Linked DNA regions of Homo sapiens: region 1 is linked to region 2. Evidence: fine-mapped expression QTL. A gene starts in region 2. The other region holds a variant in brackets. All regions are shown on one strand. Distances are between the middles of the regions. Region 1 overlaps CSPP1 (centrosome and spindle pole associated protein 1). Region 2 holds the start of SGK3 (serum/glucocorticoid regulated kinase family member 3).

Region 1 (9,657 bases), 450 kb before region 2:
ATTACTGGATAGGTGAAGTAAGATAAAAGAACTCAAGCGAACACAAAAACTGCAATTCTAAACTTGCCTGATAGGAATTTCATCATCACTGTCCATGTGTAGCAATCGCTCTTGTAGACGCCTCTCTTCACTACGAAGCTGTTTTCTCATTTCTGATAATTCCATAATTACATTTTTTTTCTCCTCTGCAAATTCCCATTGATAAGTAAAACACAAGACAGGAATAAGAACAAAAGACTAAACATTAAAACACAACCTGACTAATAATAAAGTGAAACTGCTCAGAGAGACAATTTTATGAAAGATATTTTAACATTTTATATATACACACATACATGGATCATAATTGTGAACGTCATTAGGACCCACAAGTACATTTTTTATAATATAGGAATTTCAGAAGCGATATTCTTGGGGGAGTGCAACTATAAAGGAGAGGCCCAAGGAAGTTCCTTTACGGTGATGGAACAGTTCTGTATCTTGATTGCAGTGGTAGTCGCACAAACTGTGCATGATAAAAATGCACAGAAATACACATACATAAATGCATGTAAAAACTGGTAAAATCTGATGGTCTGTGGACCACATCAATGTCCACTTCCTGGCTATGAGACTATACTATCTAAGATGTTACCCCAGGGGAAAGTTGGAGAATGGGTACACAGCACCTAACCGCTCTATACTGTTTCTGCAATTTTCTATGAGTTTATAATTATTTCAAAATGAAAAGTTAAAAAGAGAAATACTCTAGGTAACAGGTTTAGTAGTTAACTCTACCTTCTGCACGGAGCTGATTTTTCCTGGCAGGTACCGGGGGTGACTGTGCCCTGGACATGGAACTTTCCTGTTCAACAATAATGACAAAGACATGTTCAGTATGTCTTCCCTACACAGAAGCTTGAAGGGAGTAATTTTTTGAAGTATTTATATGTAAAGGAAACCAAACTCCACACTATCCTACCTCCAAAACTTACCCAGCTATACTCTACCCAAGGTAGAGTATATCCACCTTTTATATCTATTCTAGAGTGTATCTACCATGTAAATCTATTCTTCCTTCTCATCACGATGGAAGTGTCCTTGCCTCTACCCAAACAGAATCCCTTCACCTGTACTCTGTATCTGATAATTGACTCCCATTCTCCTCCGATTATTCTTTTTTCCAACTTCCTCTCTCCAAGCACCTTCCTCTCAGCCTATGTGTAAAAACCTCTCCCTTTCTTAAAAAAAAATTTTACCTCATCCTTCATTGCTCACTGTCTCCTGTCCATTCTGTCCTTCCCTTCACAGCTGAGCTTCCTTAAAGAACAGTAAATGCAGTACTTTTGGGTCTACTGCCTACTCTCATTCACTTCTCAACACACAGCTATGGCCTTTGCTTTCACACCCATCACTCCAACAATACTGCCTTCACCAAAGTCATCAAGTGACCCCCAAGTGACACATTCAGTGGGCATTTTACTTGGCCAGTCGCAACTGCCGTCACTGCCATCCTCTCTCACCCTCTGTCCATTCCTTTCACTGCTTCTCAAATGTTGGTAATTTCCCAGTATTCTATTCTCAGCCTCCTTTACTTCTCTTGTAGACACTCATCGTAGACAATGGCACTAATTTAACAAGCACCAATATGTTGATGGCGTCCAGAACTACAAATCGAGTCCAGAACTCATTCTGCTGCCACAATTCATATTTTCAACTGCCTACTCTATGTAACCCTCACCAAAAACTTGAAAGTTATCATAGACTCCTACCCACCACACACTCAACAAATAGTACTACTATGTCTCTTAAATGTATCATAAAGCTGTCACACCTTCACAGTTCTTGGTGTCACTGCCTTTGTTTGGGTCCTCAGTCTCACATCTGGACTTGTGCAAAAGCATCTTATCTCCATGTTTAGTCTTGCCCCACCTCCAAAACTTATCTCCACACCATTGCCTAAAAAAACATTATACAAAAGTGGCCATGTCATTCCCCTACTTAAATATTACAATGAATTCCTATGCATTATCTACCACAGACCTACTAAATCAGAATCTCAAAGGGTGGAATTCAGAAACATGTTCTTCTGACACATTTCTTTACCTTCTGCTAATTAGCCTGTCTGGAATCTACCAGCCTATGGAACAAAATCAAAGCTCTTAGCACTCCGTACAGCATGCCACACATGTTCTGACCTCCACCTCCTCTGCTGCCTTAATGCACAAGCATCATCAGGCCAGACCACACCATGGAAGATTCTCCACATGTGCCATGAGCTTACATTGCTCTCCACGACTTTCCACAAGCTGATAATCCCTCACCCTCCTCTTCAAGGCAAATTCCTGCATATTCTTCAAGCATCACCTTGAGGATCAATCTTAGAACATTTTCCATGTTCTCTTTTCCTTGTAGTTCAATCTAAAGTATAACAGACTCAATGAGCATATCTACAGCTACCTAGCTTGAGGGGCTAAATTATGGTTTGTCAAAAGAAACTTTAGGGCACCAAGCACTATCAGTTACAATCGAAGCAGCAGGCAAATTACTGTAGATATCACCTATATTTCAGATCTGAAAAAATTTAACCTATCCAAATATAATGAAAAAGAAAATTTCATTCGATCCCCCAATCCAAAATAACTGAGCTAGGATGAACAAATAAAAACAAAAGTACATACATGAATAAAGGAACGTATGATGCTGTCAACTGAAGGAGGTCTTTGGAGTTTGCTTGCAATTTTGTTCTGAAGAGCAGGAACTATAGGAGAAGGCTGTCTCATGTGCTGAAAAATTTAAAAAATTTAAGAGCATATTTGCTTCATCACACTCACACACATATATACACACACACACACCCCTTATAGTTAAGAAAGTCATCTAAGAAGTTTAGATTGTTATTGCTTTTATTTAATAAAATGCTTTCTACAAAAGTCAGAAATTCAATTACATAAGATCAAACATGTTGGTTATGATAAACATAAATGGATTTAGACATCTTTATTAAAACAGTATGACTGTCAGATTAGGATTTAAAAAATCAACAAACACAAGTAAAGCAACAAAAAAGAAAAAATATAACAAAACTAAAGAATCATCTTTAATAATAAAAAGGTACCATGACAATACAAAAAAATTAAATAACAAAATCCTTCTGGAAAGCAATACAAATCAACCTCGAAAATCTAGATCTAATCACTAACAGCATCATGGATGAGGGACTTTTCAAGATCACGATGGGGTTCTATATTTCAGTTTATAGTGTATTAAACCTTATAGTCCAAAAACTTCATTGTAAATACAACATAGACATTCTAAATCCCTGTAGAGGATGGAGCAAACAAGCCATAGTACACATAACAAAAGACCAAAAAGCTATCAAGGAAGAAAAACACAAAAAAGTCAGAAATGCAATTAATGCAAAGACATTAGTTTTGATAAACATAAATGGATTTAGATATCCCTATTTTAAAAGATTAGGCCAGGTGCAGTGGCTCATGTCTATAATCCCAGCACTTTGGGAGGCCAAGCAGGCAGGTCACCTGAGGACAGGAGTTCAAGACCAGCCTGGCCAACATGGTGAAACCCCGTCTCTAATAAAAATTAGCCAGGTGTGGTAGTTTGCACCTGTAATTCCAGCTACTGGGGAGGCTAGGGCAGGAGAATCACTTGAACCTGGGAGGCGGAAGTTGCAGTGAGCCGAGATTGCACCACTGCACTCCAGCCTGGGCAACAAAGCGAGTCTCTATTTCTAAATAAATAAATAAATAAATAAAAATAAAAAGATTATAACTCAGATTAGGATTTTAAAAATTCAACAAACTAAAGATAGAAGCTAACTAAATAAAAAATATGGTGACACAAAGGTAAAACTGAAGGAATAGACAAAAATATATATATATATCAGACATACATAAATGAAAGAAAATGATAGCAATGTTAATTTCAGAAAGGCAAATGCATTAAATGGGATAAAGCTGATTTAAAACTTTATGGTACTTTACAATTAAATTATAATATCATAAAAGTATATATTCCTTAAAAAATAGCATTTTTAAAAAACATAAGAAATTACAAGAAATATAATTATGGGAAACTAACAATTCTGTTTAATTCTTTTTTTTTTTTTTTTGAGATGGAGTCTCGCTCTGTCACCCAGGCTGGAGTGCCACAGTGCAGTCACGGCTCACTGCAACCTCCGCCTCCCAAGTTCAGGCGAT[TC/C]TCTTGCCTCAGCCTCCTGAGTAGCTGGGACTACAGGTGCCTGCCACCACGCCCAGCTAATTTTTGTATTTGTTATAGAGACGGGGTTTCACCATGTTGCCCAGGCTGGTCTCGATCTCCTGGCCTCAAGTGATCCGCCTGCCTCGACCTTAAATTCTTAAATGATGAATTTTACAATAAAAAATTATCTGTGAGGCAGGGTGTGGTGGCTCACACCTGCAATCCCACCACTTTGGGAGGCTGAGGCAGGAGGATAACTTGAGCCCAAAAATTTGAGATCAGCCTGGGCAACATAGCAAGACCTGGTCTCTTAAAACAAAAAGAAAGAAAAAGAAAAAGAAAAAGAAAAGAAAAGAAAAGAAAAGAAAAGAAAAGAAAAGAAAAGAAAAGAAAAGAAAAGAAAAGAAAAGAAAAGAAAGAAGGAAGGAAGGAAGGAAGGAAGGAAGGAAAGGAAAGAAAGAAAGAAAGAAAGAAAGAAAGAAAGAAAGAAAGAAAGAAAGAAAGAAAGAAAGAAAGAAAGAAAAAGAAAGAAAGAAAGAAAGAAAGAGAGAGAAGGCCGGGCGTGGTGGCTCACTCCTGTAATCTCAGCACTCTGGGAGGCAGAGGTGGGTGGATCATCTGAGGTCAGGAGTTTGAGACCAGTCTGGCCAACATGGTGAAACCCCGTCTCTGCTAAAAATACAAAAATTAGCTGGGCATGATGGCGTGTGCCTGTAGTCCCAGCTACTTGAGAGGCTGAGGCAGGAGAACTGCTTGAACCCAGGAAGTGGAGGTGCAGTGAGCCAAAATTGTGCCACTGCACTCCAGAGCCTGGGCAACAGAGCGAGATTATGTCTCAAAAAAAAAAAAAAAAAAAAAAAAAAAAAGAATACATATATATATATATATAAACCACTCTCACTTTCTGTATTAGTCTTGTCATGAACCATAACAAACAGTTCATGTTGTACTGTCTGCAGACCATATTCTTGGGTGGCACCGCATACACCATGGGAATGAGACTAAGAATGGCTCAAGTAAGTAAATCCATTACCTTCAATGGACAGAAAATACCAACAAAGCACAGTGACAGTACCTCCTACAGAAAGTTCAGTACATTGTGCCCAGACTAAACAGTAAGACAGAACAGGAACAAAAGCACCTCCTCCTCTTTCTCCCCTTTTCTAACAACTGTACAACTCTCACAGTGAAAGTGAGTTAAACTATGGGTTTGATTGACATTTTTGTCTGAAACTTACCTTTGTTTCTTCCCCAATCAAATTGTCTCTTTCACAGTAGTGCTGAAGTTGCAGGTTATATTTTTCTTCTTCTTCTTTCTTCTTTCTTTCTGCTTCTTTTTGTCTTTCTTCAGCTAACCGAATATGCTCTTCATTTTTTAGCCTTTGCTTTAAAATAAAAAGAGAAATATGCATTCCATATATTCCTTCTATAGTACATTCAAAAATGTGCTGCCTTATTTATCTGATAAAATGAGATAAAGATATAGATGACATGATATGGTGTTCTTTAACATAAGTTGTCTGCTTAAAAATAAAATATTAGGCATCTTTTATAAAGTCTTCAGTCAGCCTACATCTATATTTTTAAAGTCATCACTTATCTCCTTTCTTAAATTACCCTTTCACCTTAATAAAATAATATCCAAAGAATGTATATTGATCTGATATTTTCTAAATGTACTCCAACACTGTTCTCCTTTATAAGTAAGAAATACCTTTTCAAGTCAAAGATTTCACCTTCAGACTAAGTAGTAAAATACAATAGGGAAAAAAGATGTACCTCCTCCTCTTTCTCTCTTTTCTTTTCCTGTTCCTCTTCATACTCCTGCTGAATTCGTGCCCTCTGTTCTGCAAGCCGTCTTTCTTCTTTTTCTTCTGCAATTCTCAGTCTCTCTCGCTCTGCTTCCTCTCTTTGTTTCTTTTCCTCAATCTAAAGAATTAAACTTAGTTATTTATCTTGTAAAACTATTGAAAAGTTAGAATATCACTTATTTTTTTCCTGATAGTATATAAACTCAACACTTGTACCCTCTTTTTGCATGTTCCTAAATTTTTCAGTCTCCTGTATTTTCAGGGAGGCTACATGATTTACTGTACTGTTAAAAGCTTTGAGTTAAATTCCAGTTCCACCAAACAGACCGTGTGACCTTAAGAAACTTGCTTGTCCTCAGTTTTCTCTTTTTTCTGGTAAACACAGTTATTAACGCCTACATCTCAAAGGAGTGCTTAAAGAATTAAAGTGAAACAATGTAAGGAACATAAAAGTCCTCCTATATAGAAGGTTCTAAGCAACTAATTCATGATTATATTATTCTATAGTGATTGCTGCTATTATGTGTCAAAATTCTTGGAATTGATTATTCTAAAATAACAGTGAAATTAGTATTTTAGTATTCAATCATTTTTTAATGCAAGAGCCATTTCTCCCAAATGCCCTTTGTTATTTCCTAACTATAGAGGTTAATGGAGAAAGAACTAAAACTATTAGGTGGAGGAGGATTTAGGTCACAAGGACTCACAATTAAGTTTCATCTTGAATGCTACCTGGAGTCTGCAGCGTTGAGTACTCTAGAGCCTAAGATTTGAAGGAAAGAAGGCCCTAAGAGATAGATAGTCCACACGCCCGATGAATGAGGCAGGGAAGAACAGCAGCATGGGAACCAGGTATTCATGTCTCTGGTTTAAAGTTATCAACAGATTTTAGTTATCCTTAGGTATGGATCATACTACTCAGCATATTTTTGTTTTTCTTGTCTGTACTTCCTCTAGCTTCAAGGTTGCTCTATCTAGTGCTATTAATTTTTGAGCTACAAGAACTTTAATCTGGCCAGGCGCGGTGGCTCACCTGAGGTCAGGAGTTCGAAACCAGCCTGGCCAACATGGTGTAACCCCGTCTCTACTAAAAATACAAAAATTAGCCAGGCGTGGTGGTGTGTGCCTGTAATCCCAGCTACTCAGGAGGCTGAGACAGGAGAATCACTTGAACCCAGGAGGCAGAGGTTGCAGTGAGCCGAGATTGCACCACTGCACTCCAGCCTGGGCGACAGAATGAGACTCTGTCTTTAAAAAAAAAAAAGAACTTTAATCTTCTAACACATCCTATGATTTTATATACTAGGGCTTTTTCCAACACTTCTTTCTCACAACATTATTAAATATGCATAAGCCTAATATTTAGTACTTTTAGTTAGCAATTTGCATGCAATCACTTCTTCAAGTCCAATATGCCTAAAGAAAACATCATTTATAATTCATCAAAATTTCATATTCAATACTCAATTCCCCCTTCTTCCTACTCCATGGAAAAAAAAATCACATTCACAGGGGTCACTTTTCCATCAAAATCAAAGAATACCAATTTTTAAGCTATTAATGGATCATACACCTAATGGATCCAAAGCTCAGTGCCAACAGGAATGCTAGACAGTTGTTCAACAGGTTTCTGGTCTGGAAAGCAGGGAAAGCTATCTTCCTGTCATGGTTTTCCAATTACATAACACAAAAATGCTTCAGAGTTCTTAAAAATATTTTATTTGTTAACTATTTTTAAAGCTGTGGTTAAAAATGTCAAACATTCACAAGTGTTATTAATATTCACCAAATTTTAACAGCATGAAGACTTCTGATGCATTAACTTGAGCTAACTGTGGAACTTACTTGTACAGACCTCAGGCTAATTTCTTACCATCTTTGTGCACAGATTTGAACATTTCATAATATTTTTTTTAACAAAAGTTTTGGATACTTTTTATCTGACATTATATTGTTGACAGTAATAATAAATACCATTGATCTATTTTACATTTTCTTAGAATTACATATTAGGTTTTGTTTGAGGTGGGAGAAGAGATTTTGAAGAGGCTGCTGAAAGAAAAATTAAAAAATCATCATCTGAAAGCAATCCATTCACAGATAAATTGAGGGTTGACAGGGTGGAAGAACTGAAGGTTGAAACTAAAATAGTTAAAGCTTCCCCCATTACCATACTTTTTCTAGAGGTAAAGACTTCCTAGTGAATCCTATAAATAGAAGTCTGATATCCATAGATATTACACTTGAAGTCTGGAGACTTGGGTTCAAGCAATGGCCTCACAATTTGCTAGCTGTGACACCCTGGGCAAGCCTGTTAGTCTGTGTATTAGTTGTATGTTATTAAACAGAGATAATAAAACCTCTCTCAGAGAAATCTGAGGTTTGATGAGACACTATATGTAAAAGTATCTCAAAAACAATAAAAGTCTATACAATTGTAAGATTGTTTTTTGGCTGAATTCTACCTTAGACCATGATAAGAACTGCTAAGCATTAGAGGAGGTACTTAAATTATGACCTGCTGTCATGGTCAATATACCACACGGTCCTTTACGTTCAACAGGGACTCTGAACCCTCAACTTGCTGCTACCTGACTTGAGTGCACAATATTGGGACCTCTGATACCAGTTTCTCACATTTAATATCTATATTGTTTCTGCTGAACCTTAAAAAGCACTTTCCACCCATTTCCACTGTCACCCACACTAGTAAAATATCCCTGCTTCCACTCTTTTTAATCCTCTATTATTGTATCTTAAACAGTGATGTCACATCAATCATCCTTTTTTCACTCTGTCACCCAGGCAAGAATAAAGTGGCATATCTTGGCTCACTGCAACCTTTGCCTCCTGGGCTCAAGCAATCCTCCCACCTCAGCCTCCCGAGTAGCTGGGGTGACAGGCACACACTACAATGCCTGGCTAATTTTTTGTAGAAATGGGGTTTCATCATGTTGCCCAGGCTAGTCTCAAACTCCTGTGCTCAAGAGATCTGCCCACCTTGGCCTCCCAAAGTGCTGGCATTAGAGGTGTGAGCCACCACACCCAGCCTAATATCAATCATCCTTAAAGGCTATATCCATTACGTCACTGCCTTATTTAAGAGTCAAGAATAATTAGGATTAAAAAGAAGATATGTTTGAGGGCATCTATTTAAGAGTTTGGAATTAGATTATAAAACCTTAAATGTTAGGTTCAAGAGTTGAGATAATTTCTGTAGGCAAAGAAAAGCTACCACCAGATTTTGAGTAAAGAAGAATAGCAGGTGAAAAGTCATATCAAAGGAGGATTAACCAGGCCATAAGATTAATCTGACACTGGTATCTAAGTGTGAGTGTGAAGGGGAGGGAGGTAGGGAAAGAAGAAACTGTGAGTCCCTCATGAGCAAGTATCTCACATTCATCTCAGGCTCCATCCCTAGGACTCAGCCCAGGGTACCCCCAGTATGGGAGTAAGTCTGTTTGCTTCATAAACACTGGATGTTCAAGTGTCTTCCTTTGCGAATAGTCTGGGCAGTTCTACTATGTTAAATGCCATTTACTTATGTACATAAATGGGGCAAATAATTGTAAACTGTGATTATCTTAAATCTAATTTTTATTTATTTACAATCTGTAATAATATCAAATCATTTGGAAAAAATCTA
Region 2 (15,848 bases):
ACTACAAGATGCGGAAGTAGCACCTCTTAGATTTACCACTTTTCTCCATGATACTGGGCAGGGGAGAGTGAAATGAGAGCAAAGTCTCCACCATGAGAAATGGAAAAGGTAAAGGAAAACAGAGACACTGAGTCGCTTAAAATAATATGGGAGCTGTTACATCTGTCAGGAATAACATGTTACATAAGTTGAGTTTCATGAATCAGCAGTTTAGTCAGTAATTTACATTAATTTTTTTCAAAAAGAGAAAACATGAGAACTGGAAAAGGTAAAGTGGTTTCTGAAACAAGACAGGTTTCAAAGGTATTTTATTCCACTCCCACACAGAAGAACGTTGACAGGCAGATGACTCAGTCTGGCTTCATTAAGGGTTTCTTACTGCCTAATACACCTCATGGGAAAGGCCATCCCATCTCTCATATCTCCCTGATAACTCTTCTCAATTCCTCCTGCCAGGTAATGGCCATATTATCCCCTCTAATTGAAGGTTATCCACCTGGAAATCACATACTTTAGGTACCAAGGGCTATACTTAAAGCATATAAATAGTTGAGGAATTTTGTGTGTGTTTTTAAAGACCCTTTATGCTAAATTCATTGCAACATTTCAATAAAACACATAGTTTTATTTCAAAAATATTTACAATACCTATGATCATTGAGTTTGAACTTGATCATAAATCTAAGTAGTTTAGAAAGATAAGAAAGCTGTGGCCAGGCACGGTGGCTCACGCCTGTAATCCCAACACTTTGGGAGGCCAAGGCAGGCTGATCATGTCAGGGGTTTGATAATAGCCTGGCCAACATGGTGAAACCCTGTCTCTACTAAAAACACAAAAATTAGCCAGGTATGGGGGCATGCACCTGTAGCCCCAGCTACTCGGGAGGCTGAGGCAGGAGAATCGCTTGAACCCGGGAGGCGGAGGTTGCAGTGAGCCTAGGCTGCGCCATTGCACTCCAGCCTGGGCAACAGAGCAAGACTCTGTCTCAAAAAAAAAACAAAGAAAGAAAGAAAGAAAGCAAGCTGTCAACATAAACATAAATACCATGTGTCCGTTCTAAACTCTCAAAACTAGAGAAAAAAGGTAGGATGAAAAAAATACCCAACCTATTTTCTTTTTCAAAAACCAGAGGTGGCAAATCTTAAGAAATAAGTCCAAAGGGATTCCCATCCTTTTTGTAGAAAATGTGCTGTATTAGATACTGTCTGAAATGAGAGAGGCATTGGATTAGGCCTGGAAATCTCTCAGGCATAAATCAATTACTACGGTATTTTGAGAGACATGTTTTGAAAGAGCAAGATATCTGAAGCCATTTGGAGTCATTCATTCCACAGATGTTTATTACAGGCCTGCACGTGCCAGGCACTGTCCACACACCTGCCCTCCATTCAAGCTCTGCCTCTCACCTGCTGTGCAATCCAGGCTAAAGCACTTTAACATTTCCATGCCTCAGTTTCTTCATCTGTAAAAACAGGTAATAAAAAGTAATTAAGAGATCAACCATACAAGATCTCTCTGAAAGGTAAAGGAGTATGTCTGGAAGCACTTTGTAAGCCATGAAAATGCTAGGGGTCATCCGACTAAACTGAATTCACAAATGACACTAATGCCTGTTGTGTCATAAATTATTAATATATCAGAGGAACATGAGCCTTCTTGCTTCAAGAGACACTTCATAATCCTATTAAATAAGGCTTATCGGCTCACTTAATCATCTCTCTGAAAAGTTAAATATATGAGAGAGAGATAAGGGAGGGGGGCACAGAAAGGGAGTGAGGGAGTCAGAAAGCTAGTCTGATGTGCAGATTTTGACATTACATTCATAGTCACAATAACAAGAATCATGTCTATCTTAGTCACCACATTGGGTCTCTAATGGTGCACATTTGAAGAGGGCATGTTATTCTGAAAAAATATTCTCTGCATATCTGCAAATCACAAAAGGTACACCTATGAGGCTGACCTACCAATTCAATGTTTCCAAGAGCAAATAGCAGTAAAATTACAAAACGTTATTTGTTATGTTGATGTGTGCAAACAAAAATGTTCTATTTTATAGTACATTTCAAGTTCAATCTGACCCTCATATCTAAACTATGTCATATAAATAATGTCATATAAACAGTGTCGAACAGATCAGGAACAAAGCTCTTTTCAAAAACAAAAGTAGGCTCCATGCAGTGGCAGTTAAAGAAGGGGAAGTTCTGGTGTCTCCAGAGTTAGCCGATGGGCACAACGGCAGTTGAAAGAGACCATGTTACACAAGTCATTCAGGTTCTGGCCAACATCTGCTTTGAACAGGTCGCATTCCCAGGAGCTCCAGGCTCCCTTACCCCAGGGAAATGCTGGGGTGGTGGCTTGTCTTACAGAAGTGGTAGCCAAGGGGACCAGAAGGCACACCCGGTGCTAAAACATGCCTAAAACTTCCTCTAATGTTTACAGCTCTTCCAATGACATTTGGGGAACTAAAGTATGGATAGCCTCTTCATTGCTAGAACCGCTATAATATGATAAGTTAAGAATTTGATTTAATATTTATAAAGAACTTAGAAAGAGCCCAGCGCATAGTAAGGGCTATGTAAGTGTTTGGTAAATAAAAAAAGGCACCTCCCAGATTGGCTGGGTGAAGTCTCAATCTGGTGAGAAGGGAGAGAATCAAAATACACAACAGTCTATTTTTCACTTTGACAAAAGATTTAGAAATTACAGTGCTCTGTATTTATTTTGCACCCAAGTGCACACTAAGTAGTCTCTGGTGCAGGACTGAAATTCTACTCATGGTTCAGAAGTCACTGTGCACAACTCAATGAAAGCGTTTTAAGTTTCAAGAGATGATTCCTTTCTCTTTTCTCTTTCCAAGTAACGATGACTAAAAATGACAGAATCTAAAAATCTCAAAGCACTTCTTGTGGGTACATTCCAAAGCTAAAACTGTGAGAATTAATAGGGCCAGATTCACTTGAAGAGACGTAAGGGTTCAAATTACAGAGAACTTAAAAGACGCAACGTATTAAGGTCTTTTACTACAGATCCGCTGACAACAGGTTAAACGATTCCATCCACCCCACTCTGGCGGCTGCCCCCTCCCCGACCCTCGCAGGTGACCTGCACCCACTTTCGACCTCAGATAGGGTCTCCCTGCTCGGCGTTCCCAGTTCCTCCAGGCTCGGCGGCTGCGTGGGGGTTAACAAGGTCCAGCCACCGACGCCCCTTGGGCGTTTAGGAATCTCGAGGCAGGATCTGAATTCACCTCGTGGAAACAAAGACCACAAACTCTCCGGGAGCCGGGGGCTGGGCGGAGGTACGGCTTTTTCCGAGGACAGGCAGCGGCCGAGGCCCGGGCAGCCCTCGCCCCGCCCCGTCTCCTCCCGCCCCGGGCCGCCGTCGGAGTCCCGGGCGCGCGGACCCTCCCGCCGGCCCCGCACCTACCTGGCCCCGCGGTGCTGCTCCCGGCGCGGCGGGCGCGGAGCCGAACGCACTGCGCTTCCTCCTTCCCGGCAGGGCCGCCGGGCGCCGGCGTTTCCTCCTTGACGCGTCACGGCCGCTGGCGGCTCCTCCCGCGGAGCGCGCGGGAGGCCGAGGACAGCCGGGGAAGGCGCCGGATCCCAGCAGAGCGGCGCGAGCGGCGGGCCGGGGGCAGCCCGTGCGGGGAGGGGCTGCAGGCTGCGTCCCGCTCAGGCCTCCGAGGAAACCCGCGCTCCTCTCTCTTCCCCGAGGACCCCCGCGAAAGGCCGGGCCACGGTGCACCGTCTGCCCCCGTCACGCGCTGTGCAAAGTTCAAGAGGACACAGTGGGTCCTGTCTGGAGTCACAGACTCTGGTGTTTCCCTCTGCTCCGCCCGCAGTGGCCGCTACCCTGGGGCCCAAGACCGGCGCGGGCCAGAGCGCCGGGGCCCAACAGAGATGACCTGGTGTGTGCAGGGATCAGGACCCCCCGGGTGGGCCCGTGGTGTTGGGGGGGTTGGCTTGGTGTAAACTGGAAACTCAGAGGAGTGAATTAAATATCCAAATAATTGAGAACAACTGTGATTCATTTAGCATTATTTGGACAGTTTTCCACTTTTGTCATTAGCAGAGTTACGGCCCTTGTGTTTATAAACAGTCGAGAACTTTCACAAATTGGCAGATCCTGTGTGCAGAGAAATTTCCTTTCCACACATCTTTTTAGATCTACTGACTCTTTTTTTTATTCCCATTAATCTCCAAGTCAGCTGAGTGCACACTTTACAGCTCCTTATTACTCATTCTTGAATTACAGAAGCTGCGTTTTAGATCTGTTTATCTCTTTTAACAGATAGAGAAGCTGAGTGGAGAACTAAGAATTACATGGTTCAATGGATGTGGAGTCAAGTGGTTAAGATTTTGAAGTAGAGTGGGTTGTTTTCTTCGTCCCACAACACTACTGTAATTTAGGTCTTATCAGATATCACTTGAAGATAGACTCAGACAAGTACTTAAAGATTCCCATGTGCATATCATGCCTTAGATTTTGAGACAATGATTTGTACTTTAGATCATATGATTCCAGAGAATTTGCCACAAATCTATGAACAAATAAACTGCCAAAGGTTATTAGAGGAACTGGGATCTATGTGTGACTTCCCTAAATTCAGAAGACATTTCCTCATGTTTTAAAATGATATTCAAAGATTTAGCCCCACAAGTATGGGTTAGGACATTCATTTTTAATGTCAATAACCACAATGTGGCCTCTCTTTAAAAAGTGGATTGTGAATCCAAATACTTTTTGTACTTCAGTAATCCTACAGAACTTTCTAAACAGTAGTTTTCAGAAATGAATATAAGAATGCAGTAGATACAAAACAATACATTGCCGGTGGTCCTTTATATGTTTTACTGTGGTCCACAAAGCAATCCACATACATTAGAGGAGTTCTTCCCTTGTAACAAAATCAACAAGTGATGAGTGTATCTCTTAATTAAAGCCATATTCACAGTGCTGAAGATTTCTCAGACAAAAGGAAGTTCTGTGTCAATAAACTCCAAGTGGAATAACATCATTCTCACTTTAGAGACAAATACCTGGCTATCACCACATCTTGACTTTTTAAAAAAATAAACATCTGGGAACCATTACATTTCTAGATAAATTTGTCCTATTGTGAAGAACACACACACACACACACACACACACACACACACACACACACACAGAGATCACCTCCCACAAACATTTTATGTATTTTCTTTTTTTTTTTGAGACGAGACGGTCTCACTGTGTTGCCCAGGCTGGGTTCATTTGATCAACAGACAACATGTTAGGCATTTTGCCTTTACAATCTGAGAGCTGCAATTTAATAGCTAGATTTTGCAAAAAGCTAGAGGAGGTAAATATATTCACAAACTACTAAGGACTTTTTCACTGTAATTAAATTAGTTTTTTTTTTTTTTTTTTTTTTTGAGATGGAGTCTCACTTTTGTTGCCCAGGCTGGAGTGCAATGGCACAATCTCAGGTCATTCCAACCTCCTCCAACTTCCGGTTTCAAGCGATTCTCCTGCGTCAGCCTCCCGAGTAGCTGTGATTACAGGTGCCTGCCACCACGCCCAGCTAATGTTTTGTATCTTTAGTAGAGACAGATTTTCGCCATGTTGGCCAGGATGGTCTTGAACGCCTGACCTCAGGTGAGCCACCCGCCTTGGCCTCCCAAAGTGCTGGGATTACAGGCGTGAGCCACCATGCCCAGTCTAAAATTGGTTTTAAGGGCAAATTTTAAGGCTGATCACTTTGTTGTTGTTGTTGTTGTTGTTTTGGTTTTTTTTTTTTTTTTTGAGACAGGGTCTCACTCTGTCACCCAGACTGGAGTGCAGTGGCGTGATCTCGGCTGACCGCAACCTCTGCCTCCCAGGCTCAAGCAATTCTCCTGCCTCAGCCTCCCCAGTAGCTGGGATTACAAGTGTGCGCCACCACGCCCGGCTAATTTTTGTATTTTTAGTAGAGACAGGGTTTCACCATGTTGGCCAGGCTGGTCTTGAACTCCTGACCTCAAATGATCCACCTGCTTCAGCCTCCCAAAGTGCTGGGATTACAGGCTTCAGCCACCGCACCTGGCTAAGGCTGATCACTTTGATTAATTGTGTTCACCTATTGATAGAGATATAGGTTATATCCCCATTTTCTGTTATGTTTCCAAGTTTAGACTGTAAAAAAAAAAGTTGTTGAATGTTCAGCTAAATGTCTAGCTGATGTTTATACCTTTATGAAATATTTCATGTAAATAAATTTTAAAAATAGAGCTTTTTATCAGACTATGGGTCCCAATACTTTCTTTGAAAATATGATTCTGTTCATTCAGATAGAGCAAATATTTTGTTCATCTGTTTTATCTATAGTGTAGAGATTTTGAACACAAGCTTTGGAATTGGACAGACCCAGGTTTAACTCCTGGTTTGCCACTTCCTACTTTGGGCAAATTGTTTCACTTCTCTGAGCACCGGTTTCATCAGTAACCTGGGGATAATAGTGCTTTTTCCTCTTCAGTAAAACGGAGATAATAGTGCTAATCTCATGAAATTGCTATGAGGATCAAATGAATTTAGTAGAATGCCTGGAACATAATACCAAGTGACTGCTATCTTCATCATTATTAGCTCTAAAACATATATTAAAATGCCAATATTATATATGTTTTATTTGTAATAGTATTAAAATGGCCAGATTTTAGAAATTTTGGCGGTGGCTCACGCCTGTAATCCCAGCACTTTGGGAGGTCAAGCCGGATGGATCACGAGGTCAGGAGTTTGAGATCAGCCTGGCCAACATAATGAAACCCCGTGTCTACTAAAAATACAAAAAATTAGCCAGGTGTGGTGGTGGGCACCTGTAATCCCAGCTACTTGGGAGGCTGAGGCAGGAGAATCACTTGAACCTGGGAGGTGGAGGTAGCAGTGAGCTGAGATCACGCCATTGCACTCCAGCCCCGGGCGACAGTGTGAGATTCCGTCTCAAAAAACAAACAAAAAAACCCCAACTACCCAGCCACATAATGTGGTTATTACGATTATTTTAGATCATATATTCCAATGAAATGAATGCTTGGTTTTCATCCTCCACTATTCAAAATGGGAAACCTTTTCTCTAAAATGGTGCCTTATGTGGAAGCATTATTACTTTTTTATATCATAATAAAGCCCTCTATTATTTGTAGTTCTTTTATCAGAACCTTGGAAGAAGTGAGGGGCATAAAAATACAAGAAATACCACTTCCATTAGTGAGGGCTGGTATTCATTAGAATGCTTGTTTTTTGCCAGGCACCGTGGCTCATGCCTGTAATCCCAGCACTTTGGGAGGCTGAGGCAGGCAGATCACCTGAGGTCAGGAGTTCAAGACCAGCCCTGCCAACATGGTGAAATCTTGTAGCTACTAAAATACAAAATTAGCCAGATGTGGTGGTGGGTGCCTGTAACCCCAGCTACTCAGGAGGCTGAGGCAGGAGAATCGCTTGAACCCGGGAGGCGGAGGTTGCAGTGAGCCGAGATCTCACCACTGCACTCCAGCCTGGGCAACAAAGCGAAACTCCAGCAAAAAAAAAAAAAAAAAAAAGGAATACTTGTTTTATAGCAGATAAAATATTAAGTCTAGAGAGGTAAGAATAATCCTACCAACTATATGCTTACAAAAGCAAAATACTTTTTTTGGTTTGTTTTGTTTTTTGAGACAGGATTTCATTCTGTCACCCACCAGGCTGGAGTGCAGTGGCGTGAGCTCGGCTCACTGCAGCCTCGACTCCCTGCTTTCAAGCCATCCTCCCACCTCCTGAGTTGTTGGAACTACAGGCTTGCGCCACCACCTCAACAAATTTTTAAAATTTTTTGGAGTCAGGGTCCCACTATATTGCCCAGGCTGGTCTTGAACTCCTGGCATCAAGTGATCTTCCTATCTCGGCCTTGAAAAATGCTAGGATTACAGGTGTGAGCCACCTCGCCCAGCCTCGCAAAGGATGGTTTTGATTCATATTATTTGCATTGCTTTTAGGGTATCTTTTCCCTCATTCTGCTGAAGACTCACATGCTTAAGTGGGTCAGACACCATAAGTTGTTGCTATAGTTTCTAGCTATGTTTATCAGCTGACATTCTAATCACAACATCCCACAGTATCAAATAAAAGAAAACCATTTTTGTGGAGAAGATAGTTAAAAACATAATCCTAACTATGAATTGGCTCAGATTGTAATAATTAAAAGGAAAACCTTGCTGTAAAAATGGGTAAAAATATGGGGAAACAAAAGTGACTAATTTATTAAATTTTCTTTTTTTTTTTTTTTTGAGATGGAATTTTGCTGTGTCACCCAGGCTGGAGTGCAGTGGTGTGATCTCGGCTCACTGCAGCCTCCATCTCCTGGATTCAAGCAATTCTCCTGCCTCAGCCTCCCAGGTAGCTGGGACTACAAGCACACACCACCACACCTGGCTAATTTTTGTATTTTTAGTGGAGACAGGATTTCACCATATTGGCCAGGCTGATCTTGAACTCCTGACCTCAACTCATCCGCCCACCTCAGCTTCCTGAAGTGTTGAGATTACAGGTGTGAGCCACCGAGCCTGGCCTAAATTTTCTTTTTTTTTTTTTTAAATTTCTCTCTCTCTCTCTCTTTTTTTTTTTTTTTTTTGACTGGGTCTCACTTTTTTTTTTAGAGACAGGGTCTCACTCTGTTGCGCAGGTTGGAGTGCAGTGACACAACCATGGCTCACTGCAGCCTCAACCTCCAAGGCTCAAGCACTCCTCCCACCTCAGCCTCCCAAGTAGCACCACAGGTGCACACCAACACGCCTGGCTAATTTTTTATTTTTGTAGAGACAGGGTCTCCCTATGTTGCCCAGGCTGGTCTCAAACCGCTGGCCTCAAGTCATCCTCCTACCTTTGCCTCCCAAAGTGCTGGGATTACTGGTGTGTGCCACCATGCCCAGCTGACTAATTTATTAAATTTTCTGAGCAAAACAATTTAATAAAACATAAAGCAACCCAAGATACAGTTAGAAAAACTCAGGCCAGTAGTGGTGGCTTACGCCTATAATCCCAGCAGTTTGGGAGGCCGACATGGGAGGATCCATTAATCCTAGGAGTTTGAGACCATCCTGGGTACCAAAGTGAGACCCCTCCCCTTGTCTCTATAAAAAAAAATTAGCTGAGTATGGTGGTGCACACCTGTAGTCCCAACTACTTGGGAGGCTGAGGTGGGAGGATCACTTAAGCTTAGGAGGTCAAGCCTGTAGTGAGCTATGATTGCCCCACTGCAGTCCAGCATGGGCAACAGAGGGAGACCCTCTGTTTAAAAACAACTGGCCGGGCACGGTGGCTCACGCCTTAATCCCAGCACTGTGGGAGGCCTAGGTGGGCGGATCACGAGGTCAGGAGATTGAGACCATCCTGGCTAACATGGTGAAACCCCGTCTCTACTAAAAATACAAAAAAATTAGCCGGGTGTGGTGGCGGGCACCTGTAGTTCCAGCTACTCTTGAGGCTGAGGCAGGAGAATGGCGTGAACCTGGGAGGTGGAGCTTGCAGTAAGCCAAGATCGTGCCACTGCACTCCAGCCTGGGCAACAGAGCGAGACTCCATCTCAAAACAAAAAACAAAACAAAAAAAAACAACCAAAAAAACCCTCAGTGGCCGAGCACGCTGGCTTACACCTGTAATCCCAGCACTTTGGGAGGTCATGGCAGGCGGATCACCTGAGGTCAGGAGTTTGAGACCAGCCTGACCAATATGATGAAACCCCGTCTCTACTAAAAATACAAAAATTAGGCTGGGCGTGGTGGCTCACGCCTCTAATCCCAGCACTTTGGGAGGCCAAGGCAGGTGGATCACAAGGTCAGGAGATCGAGACCACGGTGAAACCCCGTCTCTACTAAAAAATACAAAAAAATTAGTCGGGCGCCGTGGCAGGCGCCTGTAGTCCCAGCTACTCGGGAGGCTGAGGCAGGAGAATGGCGTGAACCCGGGAGGTGGAGCTTGCAGTGAGCCGAGATTGCGCCACTGCACCCCAGCCTGGGAGACAAAGCAAGACTCCGTCTCAAAAAAAAAAAAAAAAAGTACAAAAATTAGTCGGCATGGTGGCATGTGCCTGTAATCCCAGCTACTTGGGAGGCTGAGACAGGAAAATCGCTTGAACCCGGGAGGCGGAGGTTGCAGTGAGCTGAGATTGAGCCATTGCACTCCAGCCTGGGCAACAAGAGCAAAACTCCGTCTGAAAAACAAAAACAAAAAAACCCCTCAGTTGGCCAGGTGCAGTGGCTCATACCTGTAATCCCAGCACTTTGGGAGGCCAAGGCGAGAGGATCACTTGAGGTCAGGAGTTCGAGACCAGCCTGGCCAACATAGTGAAACCCTGTCTCTACTAAAAATACAAAAATTAGCTGAGCGTGATGGTGCACCTGTAATCCCAGCTACTTGGGAGGCTAAGGCAAGAGAATCACTTGAACCCGGGAGGGGGCGGTTGCAGTGAGTCAAGATTGCGCCACTGCACTCCAACTTGGGGGACAGAGCAAGCCTCTGTCTCAAAAAAAAAAAAAAAAAAAAAAAAAAAAGGGCCGGGCGCGGTGGCTCACGCCTGTAATCCCAGCACTTTGGGAGGCTGAGGCGGGCAGATCACGAGGTCAGGAGATCAAGACCATCCTGGCCAACACAGTGAAACCCCGTCTCTACTAAAAATACAAAAATTAGCCAGGCACGGTGGCTCATGCCTGTAATCCCAGCACTTTGGGAGGCCGAGGCGGGCGGATCACGAGGTCAGGAGATCAAGACCATCCTGGCTAACACAGTGAAACCCCGTCTTTACTAAAAATACAAAAATTAGCCGGGCGTGGTGGCAGGCGCCTGTAGTCCCAGGTACTTGGGAGGCTGAGCCAGGAGAATGGTGTGAACTCGGGAGGTGGAGCTTGCAGTGAGCTGAGATCGCGCCACTGCACTCCAGCCTGGGTGACAGAGTGAGACTCCTTCTCAAAAAAAAAAAAAAAAACCCTCAGATACACATGGGAACTGAAATTGAGAGCAATTAACGCCTCTTTAGCACAGAGCAGAATTAACTTGTTTCTATGATTTGAAAAGGGTTCAGCATGTGTTCATTTTGTGGGGTAGGGTATAGGTGGGAGGCCCAAAGCTGAACGTCATTTCTTGGGCCAAATTAGCCAATTCAAACTCAAAACTGAAATGCTTGAAGTTCAAGTATGTTTCATAACAGGTAGGAAACTCTATTTTAAAACAAGACTACATTAGGATCAAATATAAGGCTTTTCAGATCACAGGACTTTCTCATTTTCTGTATTAGACTCATGAGAAAAATCAAGGGGAAGTGTTAGGAGATCAGAACACTTAAACTGCTAGCATCAGCTTTTTGATAAAAAGTAGCTAGAAATTATTTTAAATTTCCCTAAGACCATTAATTATCTAAAATAATATTATTATACTTTCCTATTAGGGAAATCTCATTGTCTTCCAATCTTGTTTTTATGAATGTCAAGAATAAAATATAAATCATTCATTTTTCTCTTTTTTTCTGTATCTCATTTAGTCTATTATGTACATAAAATAAAAGTCTGTTAATAGTTGACAATAATTTATTTACATAAGTCGTGTCAGCAGTTTCTACGTCCAGGGGATCATATTAGGGTAGGTGGACTAAACCTGCTAGGTGGACTTTGAAGATAACTATTATTTTAGTTGCTTATCAGTGGGGAATAATAGCTTTTCTTAAACACTGTTCATTTGGTGACTCAGTTATTTACTTCTATTATGTGCAATTAATGATTGAACCTATTTCAAATGCAAGGGCTTAATAGCTTCTGGCATAAAGAGGTGCATTGCTGTTATTTCCTTAACAAATTCTCTAAGGAATCTGTGTCTGGCCCAGCCAGATGTGTCAAAGACTTAAGTAGACCTTAAGGAATTATAACTCTTCATACGCAAGAAGACTCTTAAATTCCCCTGAGTTTTCTAAGATAAACAACCCCAGCTCTTTTAACTTTTTCTGTCATTTTAAAAAATATTTTATGACTCTCATAGGAGTTTTTCCCAAATTCTCCATGTTTTCTTTAGATTTTAGAGGAGATGCCCAGTATGAGACATGGAACTCTATAAAGGATCAAGTGAGTCCTTAGTATCATGGAGTGCAGTGGTGCGATCTCAGCTCACTTCAACCTCCACCTCCTGGGTTCAAGCAATTCTCCTGCCTCAGCCTCGCAAGTAGCTGGGAATACAGGCACCTGCCACCATATCCAGCTAATTTTTGTATTTTTAATAGACGCAGGGTTTCACTATGGTGGCCAGGCTGGCCTCAAACTCCTGACCTCAGGTGATCCGCCTACCTTGGCCTCCCAAAATGCTGGGGGTACAGACGTGAGCCACCGCACCTGGCCAGTTGACACTCTTTTTTTTTTTTTTTTTTTTTTGAGACGGAGTCTCGCTCTGTCGCCCAGGCCGGACTGCGGACTGCAGTGGCGCAATCTCGGCTCACTGCAAGCTCCGCTTCCCGGATTCACGCCATTCTCCTGCCTCAGCCTCCCGAGTAGCTGGGACTACAGGCGCCCGCCACCGCGCCCGGCTAATTTTTTGTATTTTTAGTAGAGACGGGGTTTCACCTTGTTAGCCAGGATGGTCTCGATCTCCTGACCTCATGATCCACCCGCCTCGGCCTCCCAAAGTGCTGGGATTACAGGCGTGAGCCACCGCGCCCGGCCGACACTCTTATAATGCAGCCTTGTATTAATCTTACGTTTAAAATTACACTTCAAAAAAATCACATTTCATTATTATCAGATTTTAAAATCTAAACTCAGCCTCCTTTTATTTCTCAAATTATATTTAAGAAGTTGTTTTGATTATCCTATGTAATTCCTCTGCATTTGTTTTACTGAAACTGTATTTCTCCTGGATAATTTTAAATTTCTTCATATTTGCTAAGGCGAATGGTATTGAAAGTGGAGACTGGACATCCAAAGGGTCCTCAAGGCAATCTACTACAAGTTCAGAAAGAACAGAAAGAAAATATTACAACATCCATTTGTTTTCTCTAAAAAGTAAGAAACAGACCAGGTTGGCTCATGCCTGAAATCCCAGCACTTTGGGAGGCTAAGGCGGGTGGATCACTTGAGCTCAGGAGTTCAAGACCAACTTGGGCAACATGATGATACACCGTCTCTACAAAAATATAAAACTTAGCTGGGCATGGTGGTGTGCATCTGTAATCCCAGCTACTCGGAATGCTGAGGTGGGAAGATAGCTTGAGTCTGGGAAACGGAGGTTGCAGTGGGCCAAGATCGCACCATTGCACTCCAGCCTGGGTGACAGAGTGAAACCCTGTCTAAAAAGAAAGAAAGAAAGAAATTAAGCTTTATTATTTAACATAAATGTGACACTGGCATGCTCATACAGTCCTTTGTCAGTCATGTCAGAGGTGTGCTGTGTGAGGTAACCTGAGAAGGACAGACTTTTCACAATTAAAAGGGTTGACTGGGTGCCCTAGTTCATCCACAATCAGTCTATTGAAGTTGTATGTAGTATAGGACATCATTGATGTGGTCGATTTTGTAAAACTAAATCCCTTCAATAGAATCTACATAATACCTTATACTGAGATGGGGAGTGATTGTGAAAACTTTTTATTTTCTAGCAAAGTATTCAACATACTCGAGGTCAAAAGCACAGATCCTGGACACACACTGCCTAGGTTCTGACCACAGTTCTCCCATCACCAGCCATGTAATCCCAGGAAGATCATTTAACTCTCTGAGGTTCAGTTTCTTCATCTGTGAAATGGAGATAATAGTATCTACTGCATTGAGTTGTTCTGGGGATGAAGTGAGTTGATACATATGTATATAAAAATCTCTTAGTATAATATCTACTACCAAAATCAGCTTTACACAAGCTCTGGTTGTTATTACTTAAAAGAGTATTTGACTATGAAGAAGAATTATGCATTTTCGCTGACAAAAAATACAAGTGATTCAGATTTCTTTACCTTTTCTGTGATAATCCCTGTGGGTTGTATTCTATGTAGAGGATATTAAACATACATATTTTCTTTTTCTTTTTCTTTTTTGAGACAGAGTTTTGCTCCTGTTGCCCAGGCTGGAGTGCAATGGCGTGATCTTGGCTCACTGCAACCTCTGCCTCCTGGGTTCAAGTGATTCTCCTGCCCTCAGCCTCCCAAGTAGCTAAGATTACAGGCATGCGCTACCCTGCCTGGCTTATTTAGTGTTTTTAATAGAGATAGTGTTTCCCCATGTTGGCCAGGCTGGTCTCGAACTCCTGACCTCAGGTGATCTGCCCGCCTCAGCCTCCCAAAGTGCTGGGATTACAGATGTGAGCCACCGTGCTCGGCTGCACATTTTCTTTTAAGGTAAAGTTTTAGCAATGAGTGAGAGATTAACTTCCTTCCTTCCCACTCCCTTTAGTGTAGATGGGTTTTGAAATAAACAGTTTGGAGAGAGTGTCTTGGAAATATTTCCATCAGTATGTGACTTTGTTGCATGGGAAACTGTGTGTGTGTGTGTGTTCGTGTCCTATTAAAACTCTATCTAATATATATATTGCACTGGAATTTTTGAAACACAATTTTCTACTTGTTTAAACATTTTCCAGTTAATGCATTTCAGTGGGTCTTAAAATTTATTTGATGAAAAAATAAAAGGCAGTGTCTTTAAATTCGTTTGCAAGAATTACTGACTGAGGCTGGGCACAGTGGCTCATGCCTGTAATCCCAGCACTTTGGGAGGCTGAGTAGTGGGGGATCACTTGAGCGCAGGAGTTTGAGACCAGCCTGGGCAACACAGCGAGACCCCGTCTCTATTAAAGAGAAAGAAAGAGACAGATTGAGAGAGGAAGGAGGGAGGGAAGGAGGGAGGGAGGGAGGGAAGGAGGGAAGGAAGGAAGGAGGGAAGGAAGGAAGGAAAGAAGGAAGGAAGGAAGGAATTACTGACTGACAGCAGAGAGAATGGAAATTTACTAGTCAAACTTCGACAAAAACCTTTACAGAACTGGATGATGGGACTGAAAAAGAAAATGAGTACTTTAATAGATATAGCCAATAACAATGCATCTCTTCCATTTAAATCTAAATATCTTTATGAAATATCTCTTCAAAATATCTTCTCACCTGTGACAGCCATTAAAGTGAAGTATTAGAATAACTAAACTTAAAATTAGACTTTCTAATGACTGCATCACAAAGTGTTAAATCAAGATTTTTTTTTTTTTTGAGATGGAGTCTTGCTCTGTCATCCAGGCTGGAGTGCAGTGGCGCGATCTCGGCTCACTGCAAGCTCCGCCTTCCGGGTTCACGCCATTCTCCTGCCTCAGCCTCCTGAGTAGCTGGGACTACAGGCGCCCACCACCAGGCCCAGCTAATTTTTTGTATTTTTAGTAGAGACGGGGTTTCACCGTGTTAGCCAGGATGGTCTCGATCTCTTGACCTCGTGATCCACTGCCTCGGCCTCCCAAAGTGCTGGGATATACAGGCCTGAGCCACGGTGCCTGGCCAAAAAGTCTTTTCTACTATTAATAAAATACTATTGGGCTGGGCGCAGTGACTCATGCCTGTAATCCCAGCACTTTAGGAGGCCAAGGTGGGCGGATCACGAGGTCAGGAGTTCAAGACCAGCCTGGTCAGCATGGTGAAACCCCGTCTCTACTAAAAATACAAAAATTAGCCGGGCGTGGTGACAGGTGCCTGTAATCCCAGCTACTTGGGAGGCTGAGGCAGGAGAATCGCTTGAACCCAGGAGGCAGAGGTTACATTGAGGTGTGATCACACCATTGCACTTCAGCCTGGGTGACAGAGCGAGACTGCATCTCAAAAAAAAAAAAAATACTATTAAGGCCAGGTGCA

What was found. PIP is the estimated chance that this variant, and not a neighbour inherited with it, causes the effect.
Region 1: its variant is fine-mapped to the expression of SGK3 in whole blood (INTERVAL, PIP 0.93).

What each region holds. Positions count from the first base shown.
Region 1 is chr8:67,154,919-67,164,575 of GRCh38, reverse strand. It overlaps CSPP1 (centrosome and spindle pole associated protein 1), which reads right to left. Exons shown (of 31, transcript NM_001382391.1): 20 at 5,980-6,129; 21 at 5,439-5,585; 22 at 2,661-2,765; 23 at 778-844; 24 at 68-185. Among named protein-coding and RNA genes, the nearest start is that of CSPP1, 95 kb to the right of the region's middle. The variant TC/C (reference allele first, on the strand shown) is at 4,200.
Region 2 is chr8:66,700,416-66,716,263 of GRCh38, reverse strand. SGK3 (serum/glucocorticoid regulated kinase family member 3) reads right to left here and starts at 3,483. Exons shown (of 17, transcript NM_001033578.3): 1 at 3,431-3,483. All of the region lies in intron 3 of C8orf44-SGK3 (C8orf44-SGK3 readthrough), which reads right to left. RefSeq lists a silencer at 3,305-3,774.